Homo sapiens: one gene and its partner. The protein of the gene in region 1 interacts with the protein of each later gene in a pairwise test. Each region holds a gene or a part of one and is shown on either strand. Other genes may lie near its edges.

Region 1 (7,632 bases):
TAAATACTAAGCATATTGCAGGTTCAGTGACTCGCCCCAGAATGGGACCCTGTCTTAGATCCTACAAATTCCTGTTCAATCCTTCTAGGCAAGATGCTTAATTATTGTTATGTGTAGGGAAGAAAATTGTTAGCAGCAGAAGGTATCCGAGTCACGTGGCACCAAAATGTATCACTAGTAGCGAATATCCAAGTTACCTTAATAGAATCCGTATGGGTCTGCAGCAACCTCAATTCCTACATCCTCAGAAGAAAGAATTCAACTCAGGGTCATACGGCAGAAAAAGAGACTGAGGCAAGTTTCAGAGCGTTTATTAAAACGCTTTAGAGCAGGAACATAAGGCAAGTGATACTGGAGACAGAAATTATTTTAAGCAGATAATGAGGGCAAAAGAGTCCTCGGCAGAACTTCCCTGCTAACAAAGAACAGCCCAAGAAATCCCTTCTTTTCTAACAAAGAGCAGCCTGGGAGATCGGGCTGCAAACATAGATAAGGAAGCTGGAAACTTGCACGAGGGGATGCCAGAAGCTGCACAGTTAGAAAGAGGTACCTGGGGCCAGGAATGTCCACCCTGGGGGCTCCACCTCCCCTCTATTTTTAGCACATGCACAGTAAGAAGGAAATAAGCGGCCGGGCCCGGTGGCTCACGCCTGTAATCCCAGCACTCTGGGAGGCCGAGGCAGGCGGATCACAAGGTCAGGAGTTTGAGACCAGCCTGACCAACATGGTGAAACCCCGTCTCCACTAAAAATACAAAAATTAGCCGGGCGTGGTGACGCACACCTGTAATCCCAGCTACTTAGGAGGCTGAAGCAGGAGAATCGCTTGAACCTGGGAGGCGGAGGTTGCAGTGAGCCCAGATCTCACCACTGCACTCCAGCCTGGGTGACAGAGTGAGACTCCTACTCAAAAAAAGAAAGAAAGAGAGAGAGAGAGAGGAAGGAAGGAAGGAAGGAAGGAAGGAAGGAAGGAAGGAAGGAAGGAAGGAAGAAGTAACATGGAGTATCTAGCCACGGGCATAATAAAAGACTGGGGTGGGGGCTGCCAGAGATTCGTGCCCTATGCAGATGGCACACCCGGTCCTAACCAGTTTTTCATGCCCTTTGTAGGTCAGACACCGCCTCCCCACTAGCTCATCTATAAAACCCCCTGCATTTAACCACGGATCGGCAACTCCTTTTCTCGGGACCCTTCTCTGGGGCAGAGAGCTATTCTCCTTCTTTCACCTATTAAAATTCTGCTCGAAACCTCACCCTTTGTGTGTTTCCACATCCTTTACCTCCGTGGCCGTGAGACCGAGAACCTTGGGTGTCACCCCAGGCAACAAGGCCACTTCACAAGTACACCTGGAAGAGAGCCAATGGACGCCCTGGAGGTCAAGTGCCCCGTTTGATCTTGAACCTAGGATTTTATACGCTGGCCTACTTCCCGCATCTTGTGCCCCTTTCCCTTATTCTTCTCTTAAGGTGAACCGCCCACATGCATAGTGCCCTGCTTGGGATTGGGAGGTGAGCATGGGCAGTGTGTTTAAGAAGTTGTATGCGTGATCACCTGAGGCTTTCTTCCCCTTTTCCAGTGGAACGCCCCTAGAAGGTCATACGCTGCCATTTTGTCTCTTAATGCGCATGCTCAAGCCCACTGGCCCAATTCCTGAGATCTTATTGGAAGCTGCCGACTACCAATTTCAAGTGTATTCATCTGTTGGGAAACTGCCTCTCCCTGTTGTGGCCATGATCAATGATCATTTTAGAGAGGCAGTGTGACAACTGCCAAACCATCCCCTGATCATCACCTGACATTCCTGGCGGGTTGGGAGGGGAGCCCTTCTCTGCCCCGCTCATGCCTGACTAGCTACCTACTGTAACAAAATCTGTATCATGTCTTCCCAGTGATTCTATATTTTGGTAATATAGAATCAACTTGTGGAGAAGGCAGCATGATGTAGTGAACAAAGCTTCAGCAGGCCAGGATTTAAATCCCAGAGCCACCATTTATTGGCCATGTACCATTAAATATGTGTTACAGGCCTCTCCTGGGCCTCATTTTTTTCATCTGCAAAATAGGAAATGATGGCAAGGATCAAATAAGATGACAACTATGAGAAGCACGCCCAAAGCTAGGCACACATTAAATGTGTTTCCCTTCCCTTCTTAAGTCAGAGTTTGGACTCTGAACATAATGTAACTCCCCACCAAGAGCTGACTGTGACTATGGGCACTGTTTCTATGAAGGGAGCTCTTGGTGGCCCTTTGTTGTAACTGTTGATTGCACACATCTGGAAACCATGACAACCGTTTTGCTTTTAGTTCAGCTTGGCCCAAATGTAGCTCTATATAAGGCAGCTTCCATACTTCAGTTTTTCCCAACACATCATAGCTTGGCTTGAATTTGGGCAGAAGGGTGGGTGCCAAAGGAAATGTACAATGTCTGAGAAAAATTCTTATTCAACTAACAATTACCCAGATCTGTATGGCCCCACTAGGGCACTGTTCCTGGAGCTTTTGTGTACATTCTCCCACTGAAAATGCAGTGGGAAGCTTTATGATGATGCCTACTTTGCAGGTGTTTCGATGACTCTGGGTGGTTTAAGTGACTTTCCAAAGTCACAGAGATAATAAGGCATAGACTTGGGATAAGATCCCAGGCTTCTGACATGGAAAAAAGCAGGTCACAAGGATTTGCGGTGTTAGAAGAACAGCAGCTGTAGTGTCTGCCTGCCAGTGTGCCTTGAGTTGACACTGTCCACAACAAGTACTGGAAGGCAGGAGAGGGGAGGTCCTATGTAAGTTTCCTTGGCCTTTAGAAGAAACCCTGTGTCCAGGCTCTCTGTCAACTAAGTCACATATCGAACTGGGGCAGGTAGTGATATATGGCTAATTAAATGTGCCATGTAAACAATATCTGACCACTAATTTTAAAAAACAGTTTGTAAAACATTCCTGGCATCATTTAATCTTTTGGGGTTTTCACTTGTTGTATTCAGAAGGTATTTTAGGACCAACCTTAATTGTCATGCATTCATTCAACGAATATTTATTAACCTACCTACTGTGTTGTATCCAGCACTGTTTTGTTTTGTTGTTGTTTGTTTTTTTGGGGACAGAATCTCACTCTGTTGCCTAGGGTGGAGTGCAGGGGCACAATATCTGCTCACTGCAACCTCCGCCTCCTGGGTTCAAGCGATTCCCGTGCCTCATACTCCCAAGTAGCTGGGATTACAGTTGTGCGCAGCAACTCTCAGCTAATTTTCGTATTTTTCATAGAGACAGGGTTTCACCTTGTTGGCCAGGCTGGTCTTGAACTCCTGACCTCAGGTGATCCTCCCGCCTTGGCCTCCCAAATTACTGGGATTACAGGTGTGACCCACTGCACCCAGCCATAAAACTCTTTAACACAAACTCTTCAAAGTGACATCTTTTGTAACCTTCATAGGTTACAAAAGGTATTGATATATTAATAGATTGAGATTTGATTGCGGGGGGGCGGGGCAGGGGGAGAATGCTAAAAAAATAAGTCAGCTTTCTTTTCTGTAACTATTTAAAAGAATGCAAAGTAATTCTACAGGCAATTCCTTGGTGGGCTTATTTGGTAATTTTTTTTTTCTTTTCCATTTTCCTCTTGCTCTTTGGTTTGTAGGAGAACCGCTTTATTCCCAGGAGGCAATTTTGAGTCCCAACATGTCCTGCATCATCTCCTGTGCCCATTGCCAAAGGAAGGCGACCAGAGCGTGGGTTTCAGCACAGCTCTGATTGGATGATAAGCAAGGAGAGTAATGTGCTGCTAGGAGGTTAGAGAAAAGAAAATACTAGAATATACCAGAATGTAGTATTTCCACTTCCCTCCCTCCAAATCAAAAGCCTCATGAATGAAATTATGACCATTATTCAAGTGCAATTATACTGAGTATGTAAAATGGAAACACTGAAAGTAAATCATACATTTGGATATTACATTTCATATTTGAGAACATGCCAGAAACATTGTATTATTGTTGAGTGTAATGTCAGGAGACAAACTTCTACGCATTTTATACATAAATTTTTCCATTTTCTCTGTTTCCCATTTATGTCAAGTTGAACACATGGTATGACTTTTAATATTCTCTCTTCCTTCTCCTTCCCCACATTGAATGTCAAGTGATCACACTCAATCTTGATTATCCTAAATTTACCCTTAGGACCTGTCACCTCATTGGGTGTTGCCGCTAGAACAAGAGGGTTTTTTAAATGGTATAAAAAGGAGAGGCCCGGCTTGGTAGCTCATGCCTGTAATTCTAGCACTTTGGGAGGCTGGGGCGGGAAATCCCTTGATCCCAGGAGTTTCAGACCAGCCTGGGCAACATGGTGAGACTCTGTCTCTATAAAAAAAAAAATTTTTTTTTTTAATTTAGCTGGGTGTGGTGGCATGCCCTGTAGTCTCAGCTACTATGGAGGCTGAGGTGGGAGGATCACTTGATCCTGGAAGGTGGAGGCTGCAGTAAGCTGAGTGGCACCAGTGCACTCCTGTCAAAAGAGAGAGAGGAGAGAGAGAGAGAGAGAGAGGAAGAGTCCCTAAAGAAACCTATAAAACTGGGGTCTTATGGATGCTAGCACATATCTTGGAAAGAACTGCCAGCGCCAGTGGATTACAGAAGACAACTGTGGCTACAGGCTGTTCTTGCCAGCTCAGGCGTCAACTCGTGGAAACCGGTTAATGACCCGAGGGGACAGCGGATTCTCGCCTAAGCAAGATCCCGCAGATGGGAGGGCGTAGGAAGAGGTTCCCCGGGCCGGCTCCAGGCCCCAGCGGGCGTGGGCGTTGGCAGTGAGCGAGGGGTGGTCCCGCGCCGCGCCGGCGGGGGGCGCCCGAATGAGAGCGCGGGGCGGTGCCGTTGGGACCACGGCGGCCAGAGCGGCAGGATGGCTTCCGGCTTCAAGAAGCCCAGCGCTGCCTCCACCGGCCAAAAGAGAAAGGTGGCACCTAAGCCCGAGCTCACTGAGGATCAGAAGCAAGAAGTTCGGGAAGCATTTGACCTCTTCGACGTGGACGGAAGTGGGACCATCGACGCGAAGGAGCTGAAGGTGGCCATGAGAGCGCTGGGCTTCGAACCCAGGAAGGAAGAGATGAAGAAAATGATCTCCGAGGTGGACAGGGAAGGCACGGGGAAGATCAGCTTCAATGACTTCCTGGCCGTGATGACGCAGAAGATGTCCGAGAAGGACACCAAAGAAGAAATCCTGAAGGCCTTCAGGCTCTTTGATGACGATGAGACCGGGAAGATCTCGTTCAAAAACCTGAAGCGTGTGGCCAACGAGCTGGGGGAGAACCTCACGGATGAGGAGCTGCAGGAGATGATCGACGAAGCTGATCGGGATGGGGACGGCGAAGTGAACGAGGAGGAGTTCCTTCGGATCATGAAGAAGACCAGCCTTTACTGAAGTCGGTTCAGAAGCTAAAGTGACTCTCTGGGTTGCCTGCTTCCATTTTGTGAAACCTTAGAGGACAGCGGCTGCCTGTCCCTTCTTCACCCCCTCACCCCCATAATTTGTCTAGATCTATTTCCATATCTCTAGTTCAATAATAGAATTTGAAAGATGCTTGTAATGTGAGTTTTGGGTTTTAATTCTCAAGAGTCAACCTGGAGCACATGAGGTTAAACAAAGGGCCCTGAAGTTTGAGTGCGCCCTCCATTTGCCCTGTGCTGAACTTGCTGTTCATCTGTTGATCTGGAGGCAGGACAGCTTCTGGGACACACAAAAATGTGGTTCCCTTTGTCACTTCTTTGGTGGTCTTAAATTATCTTGCTTCATATATCATTCCTTAAATTCCAGTCATTGTTCCAGCATAATGAGATGGAATCTGCCAGTAGATTTGCCTAGCCTGTCCACTTAGCTGAATACCAGTTTGAAGGAAAACAGGGTGGCCACTTACAAACTTACGGAGCTCAGGACAGATAATCTTATAAAGAATAGACTTGCTTGGGTGGTAGTACGTTGTGCAATTTTGACTATTCACTGGCTTTATACCTGCAAATGATTCTTCGTTCATGTGTAAATTGTCCACCATGGGTTTATCTAGGGCTAGTATGTATACCTGGGCTACAGAATAAAAATAAAATCTAATACTGGCCCAAGCAAAGTATAATTTGCTTAAGAGGTTACGCTAACAAACGATTTTGAGTAAATATTTACAAATGTAGGATCTTAGTTTAGGAAATTATAACAAATACCTTAATATAACATTTTAAGCTACTTATAGTCCTTGGAAATAGCAACAAATATCTTAGTTATTGGACTATTATAACCTTAGTCATCTTATTACTGCTTGATTATGAGACACTCTCCCTGCTAATCCTTAGAACATCTTGGTTCTTGGTACTTGACTTTTAGCCCCTCTGACATATAGTTGATGTCAGAGTGTCTGGCATTTCAGTAGTGCTCTATTTTACAAATCCCAGTAAACTGCTCCACTGTGGCTTGTTTATGTGTTAATACTGCTTGTTTTCTGTTATAAATTATTTTTTGCTTTGGAGTAAGATATCATCATTTTGCATAGCTACAAATCTGAAGTTAAAGAAAATTTTAAAAATGTAATTGTGGGAAAATAACAAATAGATCTGCTGAGATGGAGGCTTTGACTAATGTTTTAATAACAGGCAACAAAACAAAGAGGCAGGATATTTTGGTCACAACTAAACCTAAATTAAATCCTCATACAAAGCCCCATTAAGATAAATGCTCAAATTCTGGGAACATTTCACTTGCTTTGCCAGCAATTTTACCCTTCAGAGGGTGTGGATCTAATCAGGGGAACAAACTACCCTGGGCTTAATTCTCATTAACAGGGACTAATTTGTCAAAGCGGCAGTACTAGCTGAAGTGATGGGTATGGAAGCATTCACTGTGAGGATTTTGCTGAGGTGCCTGGCACAGGGTAGGGGAACTCACCCAGGCTGCAAGATGCTAACAGTTCAGGTTCAAGGTCTTAGTGTGGACTAAGGTGCAGTCAGGATGGGAACAGGTGCAACTTGGGCCAACATCAGTATGAAGGGCCTGATCTGAGGGCAGGGGAAGGAGGGGGCATTCTGGGAAGCAAGAGTTCCTGGTATCCTGTTGACCAGAGTCTTGGCCCAAGGATCAACGTATGAATTAAAGTAGAAATACCAGAAACAAAGAAAGTTGGCAGAAACTAGGAGAAGCAGAGTCTCAGCCAACTGGACTGGGCTCAGCCTTGGCTACTGGCCCGGCAGATGATAGAAGAGAAAACCAGGAACCCAGGCTGAAGCCCAGTGGTTGGGCTGGCCACACACCATGCATAGCCTTAAAGGGGTGGCCTAAGGGCATGGTCCGCTCCAAAAAAGGAAAGGGGGCCCCAGAATATTTCTGAATCCCACTCACTGCCAGGGAAGAACCTCTCAATTCACTCAATAGTGCATTCTCCTGCTTCTCAATAGGCTAATACTCTAGAGAATATGGGGACAAGGGGAGGAGGGTCTAGTGGAACAGGTCTAAACTGGCGTTTGAATTTTAAGATAAGTTAATCATACATTGGCTGGGTCAGCCATGTCTCTTAGTCTTTACAAAAGTAGAACACAAAAAAATTCAATGGAAATCTACAGACACCTATTTGCAGATGAGGAAACACGGCTATGAA
Region 2 (7,959 bases), on another chromosome or scaffold:
TCCAACTTATACCTCCAGTGCGGCGCTCCCACAATGCTTAACTCCAGGAAACACCATTCACAGTGTAGCCATTGTGAATGGCAGTTCTTGGAGTAGCGCACTACGTAGCCAGTGTGACCACAGACTGCATACTTGCAGCTTTACCCTAGTGCCTCAGAGGCATCCTCACACCCAGCTCATCTGATATGGCACTCATTGTCCTTCCTCCCAACCTGCTCATCTTCCTACCTTCCTTGCCTTGGTGAGTGGCACTATCCATCTAGTTACCCAAACCGGAGATCTGGAAGCCACCAACAGTTCTTTTTAACCCCTTGATCTATTATTGATCATTTTCTCTTTCCATCACCATAACACAACTGTCTTGTAGTCATACCCTCCATCCCCTTCCCATTGCTACTTCCTAGACTTAGGTCATCATTTATCTTCTTAATTACTATCAAAGAGAACATTTATCTCTTAGACTACTGCAGTCAGCTCTCAATTGATCTCTCTCTCTTTTTTTTTTGAGACGGAGTCTCTGTCACCCAGGCTGGAGTGCAGTGGTGCGATCTTGGCTCACTGCAGCCTCCACCCCCAGGGTTCTAGCTATTCTCCTGCCTCAGCCTCCCAAGTAGCTGGGATTACAGGCACCTGCCACCAGGCTCGGCTAATTGTTTTGTATTTTTAATAGAGACAGGGTTTCGCCATGTTGGCCAGGCTGGTCTCAAACTCCTGACCTCAGGTGATCCACCTACCTCAGCCTCCCAAAGTGCTAGGATTACAGGCATGATTCACTGCACCCAGCCTGATCTCTCTTAATATCCAAATTCATCCTCAACGCTGCTGGAATGATCTTTCTGATCATGTAACTTTTAAAAAATATTTCAATAACTTGTCTAGAATAAACACCCAGATTTTTAATATGACAAGTTTTGACCTTCCATGATCTGGCTGCTCCTTACTTTTTGTTTCATCCTTAGCCAATCCTTTGCACCCATTGCTTTGTCCTTACCAAACTGCTTGCTGTTCGTGGCATACATGTCCATGGCTCTGTCTTTGCTTATATTGCTCTACTGCCTAGAATATCTACACCTGTGTTTATACCTTTTATCCATCTTTCAGGATGAGACCTACTCATCTTTCAGATCTCAACACCTGGGTCATCTTCTCTAAAAACTTTCTGTGCCTCCTTTCCTGCTTATTTACAGTCATGCAATCTTACCCCATGAAAAATAGCTACTCCTATCTCTCTACTTTGTATCTGTTATTTTAGGGCCTATCAGCAGTTTATTCATCAGTCGGTCACTTATATAATATACATGCCTGGCCCTCTCTACAGATTGTAAACTCCTTAAGAATGAGGACTTCATTTTACATTCCTCACCAATGTCTTACATATTACTGGTATTCAGATAGTTCGAATAGTCACTATTTGTTCTTTGAATAATTCGGTTACTTGTTACTAAAAGTACTTTTAATGATTTTTTGATTAGGACTTTCAACAAATTCTCTATGCATATATTTGATTCTGTTGTTCTGTATAAGCTCACTTTTCTTAAAATAATATTTCCAAAGGTAAGTTTCCCAAGAAGGGAATTTGCACAAATTGTTTGTTCTCTCTTGGTTCTGTGTCTTAGAGGAAAGTACACAGCACCCAGGTTGTCACACATTGCTCAAGAACAGTGATCACAATCTATTATGCTCAACAGGCCCCGCTGGGGATTTTTCTGAAGACCTGACTACGTTATAAACTCACTAATATTGGGACTGGGTCTTCAACTGTTTTTTGCCCAGTGATTTTTTGCCTGTAGGTACTCAATATGTTGAATGAATGATTTTAGCATATCACAGGAAGATTGCAGATTTGGATACTGTTGCACTTATATATATCTGGAAAGGATTTTATCTTAAATATCAAGGAAAAAAGCTAAAGTTAGCTTCTACTGTTTTAGAGCATTTGTGCAGAATGTCATCAGATGAGGAGAAATACTCACTTCCAGTTGTGCAAAATGACTCCAGTCGAGGCAGTTCTGTCTCTTCGAATCTTCAGGTAGGAAAAAATTTCTAAATTTACCATGACTTTTTTTATTTTAAACAAATGAATGTAAGGGAAAACTAGGATTTTTTAATAATTTTTTCATCCATTTACAAGGGAGTTTTTCAATTTATAATAATATCAAACTTCAGGAATTACTGTACACATTTTAGGAGTGACTTTACATTGTTTTAACTTTTCAGAAAATATTGATGAACTCTTCATACACTCTGTACAAAGGCTTCAACCAACACAGTAAGAGGTGAAACAAATGTTCAAGAAACATTTTTTTGTTTAAATTTTTTTCATTTTAGCTACCTCTCATGAATGCTACTTTCACTTTTAATGCAAATTAATACAATATCAAACCATCCAAAGTTCTAGAGCTCAAGATTCCCTTGTGTTCTACTTGCTGAGGTTTGGTCTCTGTTGTCACAACATTCAGTACAATCTGCTGCCCAGGACCTGGACATTGACAGATAAAATGAAGTGGGTCAGTTAACTACAGAGGGTGTGGTATTTACATGAAATGTTTTAAATTTCTCTTATTTCTAAATATTTCATCATCAAAAATATGGATTTAGATTTCTGGAGTAGATTTTAAATATGAGAATAATGACATGGTATATCTTAAATTTTACAGTTGTATTACTCAAGGGGAAAGGCTGTTTATGCCTAAGCATATGAAATTGTTATTGATTCTGTACGATATGAGAAAAGCTTTAGGAAAATATTTTATGAAACAAATTTGTTCCTTTAATCGAAATTATGGATTTCAAAATGGGGAAGGTATTGGGAAAATATCTGAATATTTACAGGATAAAACTAGTCTGGAGTTGTGGCAGAGCTTTTGCACCCTAGCCTTCCCTTTTGATGGTACCTGTCCCATGTAGTCCTCTCTTCAGGTGACAGTACTTCCTCCACCCTTCATCGCTGTCTGATTGAAACTTGAAGATAGAACTGATTAACTCATTTATACTAAAATGTAAACACCTTGTGAGCTCTCAAATTTCATTTCGTGAAGAGATAAAGCTTTAAATCAAAAGAATAACTCTCTAGAGTGGAATTTTAGAGAGACGGAAGAAGAACCTGCCAGAAATTATTTTGTGTTATTGTTTACCCACCTATAATGTAAGCTCAACTGAGAGTCTATTACTGTCAACTAATGTTCCTACTGGTTCTTGGACTGAAGTTGAAAGCCTCTCCATATTCCCTGTACATACAGTGTTATTACTTTGGGTTTCACTACTGGAAGCACTTCAAAATATAAATACAAAAAAAAATCTTAAAAATAACATAAAATACACATTTTTACATATGTAGTAAATATGTAAATCCAAACATTTAATACAAAAGCCCCTCATAAATAAATATTCCTCTTAAGGAACTTTTTTGTTACTCTCTTTTTATGCGAATGCTTCATAAGCCAGAAGGTGGTAAATGCTGAGGGATGGGCAGCATCCATAGTGCTTATACACTGAAAATTTCCTCTAACCACAGCTCCTATCAGCCAAGTTGCTCTGACTCTAATGGTTGAGGCATGGGTGGAGCTATATTTCAGGGTCATATCAATTCAGCTCTTGGGGGTTGGGGAGGGGGGCAAAATTACAAGTTTTGAATGTTAACAGAGGTTATGTTTGGCAATTAAGAAAGCCAATATTGTTTATTTTGATTCTTAATTTTAAATTTTATTTTTAAATAACTTATTTGGCTTGTGTCTACATATATGAAACTCTAAAATAGTCATTTAAATAACTGATTTTTTCTAAATGTTTTCTTGAAATAAGTTGGAATATATGGTCATGGAATACTATTGACATATACTTATTTATTTCCCCTTTAAGCCATAGCAATTGTGGTAAAATATATGAAATATATGAATATGTATGAAGTATATGATTTGAAATATGTGTTTGGATCTTTTTTTTCCTTCTCTTATCCAGAGCAGAAGTCAGACTAGGGAAGCCACAAGTGAAAGCCACTGACTTCCACTTCTCCCTCCGTTCCTACATGCTAGAGGTGGTGATAGGCTAACTCTGAGTAGAGCTGACTTGGCTAAATCTAGTTGCAACTGACACCACAGCAGGAACACTATAAAAAGTTTATGAACCTCACAATATAAGATCACCATCATATTAATCTGCTCAGGCTACCATAACAAAGTACCATAAATTCATAGGCTTAAACAACAGACATTTATCTTCTCACAGTTCTGGAGGCTAGAAGTCCCAGATCACAGCCCAAAAGGGTCAGTTTCTGGTGAGGGCTCTCTTTGTGGATTGCAGACAGGTGCCTTCTTGCTGTATCTTTGCATGGCCTTTCCTCAGTACAGTATGTGCAGGTGGGAGGAGAGCATGCACAAGGTTCCTGGTGTCTCTTCTGATGAGTACATTAATGCTCTCAGGGCCCCAACCAATGACCTTATTTAACCTTAATTACTTTCTTGAAGGCCTCATCTCCAAATACAGCCACACTGGGTGTTAGGGCTTCAGCATATGAATTTTGAGGGGACACAAACATTCAGACTCCGTAACTCCATAACAGCCACACTTTTATATATTCTTAGCCAAAATCAAAAGTATATTTTGGGTGTTTGGGAAGTATAATAGTGCTTTAACAGAAACCAAGTAAGGGTGGTTTAAGTGGGTTCCTTACAGTTTCATTCTGTCTCTCATAAATTCTGAGCTGATACGTAGTCCTGAGATCATCTGAGGACCCAATCCCTTCTCTCTTTTTGCTGTACCATGAGCTGTTGACCGTGTTTGCATTGTCAGGTACTGGTGCACTGACAGTGTACTACCACTAGCCCATGGGAAGAGGGGACCAGCAGGAAGCAGCTTCGTTTTTAAGGACTTCACCTAAAGTTGTACACATCATTTCCAGTTGAATCCCATAGACCAGGTCTCTTGGCCACACCTAGCTGCAGAGGAGGCTGGGAAATGTAGCTGGGTGGCCATTTGCCCAAATCAAACCCTGGGGCTTTATTAAGTTAAAGAAATTAAAAAGAAATGGATGCTGCTGGATTAGTTACAGTCTCTATGCACTTGAAATTTTATGTATTAGTTTATTAGGACCAACACACACATTCAGGTTTATAGGAACTAGTAAATATCTTGTGCATGGCCCCAATTTATTAAGCTCTTTGGGAATTTCTTTTTGATAATTAGAAAACCAATATGCTTTGGGAAGTGTATTTTTTTTAACCTAAGGATATTTAAATCTATTTAAATAATCATAGTTACTTTTGTCAATGTAAAAATTAAATGTTGGTGCTCGCTTCAGCAGCACATATACTAAAACTGGAGCCACACAGAAAATTAGCATGGACCCTGTGCAAGGAGGACATGCAAATTTGTGAAATGTTCTATAATTTTTTAATAATTTTTTTAAGTTTTATAATATAAAAAAAGTTGTATTGTGATATCCTAAATGATTTGTTTCCTAATAAGAGCCTTCTGTCTCAGTGATAACCATTATGTAAAATACTGATTTTTATTTGCTACTAGGAAATGTAAGTTTAAAACTCAGACAGATGTTTATTCTCATGAAGGTGACATCACTAACAAAAATGGTTGATTATAGCAATATGAAGGAGATTCTGGTTGAATTTTCTAAAGATTTTCTCTTTGAAATATCTCTCTCTTCCTCTTCTGTCGTTAGCCTTAAAATATATAAAAATCAGTATTTGCTATACCTAATGTTTACTGCGTGTAAGTATCTATGTTAAATATGTGAATCAGGCCGGGTGCAGTGGCTCACGCCTGTAATCCTAGCACTTTGGGGGTCCAGGGCTGTGGATCAAGAGGTCAGGAGTTCAAGACCAGCCTGACCAACATGGTGAAACCCCATCTCTACTAAAAGTACAAAAATTAGGTGGGCGTGGTGGTACAAACCTGTAATTCCAGATACTCAGGAGGCTGAGGCAGGAGAATCGCTTGAACCTGGGAGGCAGAGGTTGCGGTGAGCCAAGACCATGCCACTGCACTCCAGCCTGGGCTACAGAGCAAGACTCCATCTCAAAAAAAAAGAAGAAAAAAATTGTAAATCAAGAAATCAAGGTTGAAGCGCAAACCAGGTCACTCTTGTACATGTAATTGCCATAAAAGCTAGCAGTTTTCAAATATATAAAAGCATAAGCTTTTTTAAAAAACAATTTTACTTAAAATTCCGATATAAAAAAGCAGATGAAAACAAAACTACAGTAGTATAGATTTATTTTGTAAATTCAAATGCAATCAGTTAATAAAAACAGTTAAGCTGCCTTGATAAATGTACATTTGAAATTGGGGGGTAATAGAAGGCCATTGCAGTTTTATAAACTTAAGTATCCAGTTTGCTTCTATATTTTGTTTAGGTTACATAATTTTTTTTCAGTTCCAAAAATGGTATCTTTTTAATAGCATGTCTCATCTTCAATTAAACCAATCTGACATATAAAATTAAGTGATAGAAAATTTTTGATTCAGTGTTGAGTCACTCACAGAACCTTATCACCTCTTCATACTTTGTTGTTGTTTCCCCAGAGACAGGATCTTGCTCTGTCACCCAGGCTGGGGTGCAGTGGTGCCATCTTGTCTTACTGCAGCTTCCAGTTCCTAGGCTTAAGTGGTCCTCCTGCCTCAGCCTCCTGAGTAGCTACAACTACAGGCACACACCACCACACCTAGCAAATTTTTGTAAAAAATTTATTGTAGAGATGAGGTCTCACTTTGTTGCTCAGGCTTCAAGCCATCCTCCTGCCTCAGCCTCTCAAAGTGCTGAGTTTACAGGCATGAGTCACTGCACCCAGCCCTCTTCAAACTGTTAATCATAAATATAAAAATCACACAAGAAGCACTCGAGGAACTCAAGCTTGGAATAAGTGGTAAAACTTTGTAATATAATAAGCATGGGACTCTATTATGGTAATTAAATTTCTTTAAAACAAATTCAGTTGAATATATTATAACATTGTAACTGTTACACTACATTATTGATTATTGGCCTCTCTTAGGAAGAATATGAAGAACTGCTTCATTATGCTATAGTGACTCCAAATATTGAACCCTGTGCTTCACAGTCATCTCATCCTAAGGGAGAATTGGTGCCAGATGTCAGAATTTCTACAATTCATGATATTCTTCATAGTCAAGGTTATATATATTTTTCAAGATATCTCTTAATTTAAAATATTACTGAGTTTATTAATGATACTGACAGGATTGTGAAAATGCCTGTCCAGATCAGTGATTCTTCTCAACCATTTATGTGTATTAGTATCATCTAGGGGAGCTTTTTACATTTTAATATATTATTCCTGACTCTCGTGTGACAGCTTGATTTTTCTTTGAACTTCATTTGACTCTTACTTTTATGAAGAATAATAAAGTTGAAGCAATGCTATGGCAACTGCATGGCTTTTTGGTATGTTGTATCTCAGTACTTGTTCCAACAGTTTTATGCCAGGATTAACCTGAAAACTAAATGCCCAAGACTAAAATTAAAGATGGTAACCCTGAGAGTCTCTTAAATTACTTTACAAACCTCATGCTAGTGCTTTATCAGCAGTATTTATATGGGCATGGAGGACTGTTTGAATAATTATCACAAGGTGAACCCATCTGTGGACCATGTCAGCAACAGAACTGAAAGCTACTATAAACCAGGATGTGTGTTGATAGATGAGTGAAAAGTGGAGAAAAGAGGATAAAGCTCCTTTTACCTCCATTCCTTATTCAGGTGAAGACAACATCCCAAACTCTAAATAAATGTTCTTTCAAAGGGCACAGAAAGCCTTCCTAAAACAGTCCTGATAAGGACCAGTTATCACACTATAGGCGTAACTCCAAGGATCCCTGTCCTTGAAGGCGCATGACATAGCCTACTCAGAGGCCAAAGGCTCCTGGGCTTCTGCTAAGTCATAGCTCTAGTGTCTGTTGTCTCTCATTCTCTGTAGACGTGGATTT

Evidence for each region.
Region 2: the proteins of CETN1 (region 1) and POC5 interact in binary tests that used the Homo sapiens proteins (3 or more experiments, as listed by UniProt).

What each region holds. Positions count from the first base shown.
Region 1 is NC_000018.10:575,511-583,142, forward strand, and holds CETN1 (centrin-1), read left to right. Parts: upstream 1-4,869; 5' UTR 4,870-4,898; coding exon 4,899-5,417; 3' UTR 5,418-6,604; downstream 6,605-7,632. UniProt on the Homo sapiens protein: Plays a fundamental role in microtubule-organizing center structure and function. Plays a role in sperm cilia formation.
Region 2 is NC_000005.10:75,706,924-75,714,882, reverse strand, and holds part of POC5 (centrosomal protein POC5), read left to right. Parts: intron 1-1,931; 5' UTR 1,932-1,945; coding exon 1,946-2,029; intron 2,030-2,222; exon of another isoform or gene 2,223-2,276; intron 2,277-2,450; exon of another isoform or gene 2,451-2,498; coding exon of another isoform or gene 2,499-2,507; intron 2,508-7,007; coding exon 7,008-7,146; intron 7,147-7,959. UniProt on the Homo sapiens protein: Essential for the assembly of the distal half of centrioles, required for centriole elongation. Acts as a negative regulator of centriole elongation.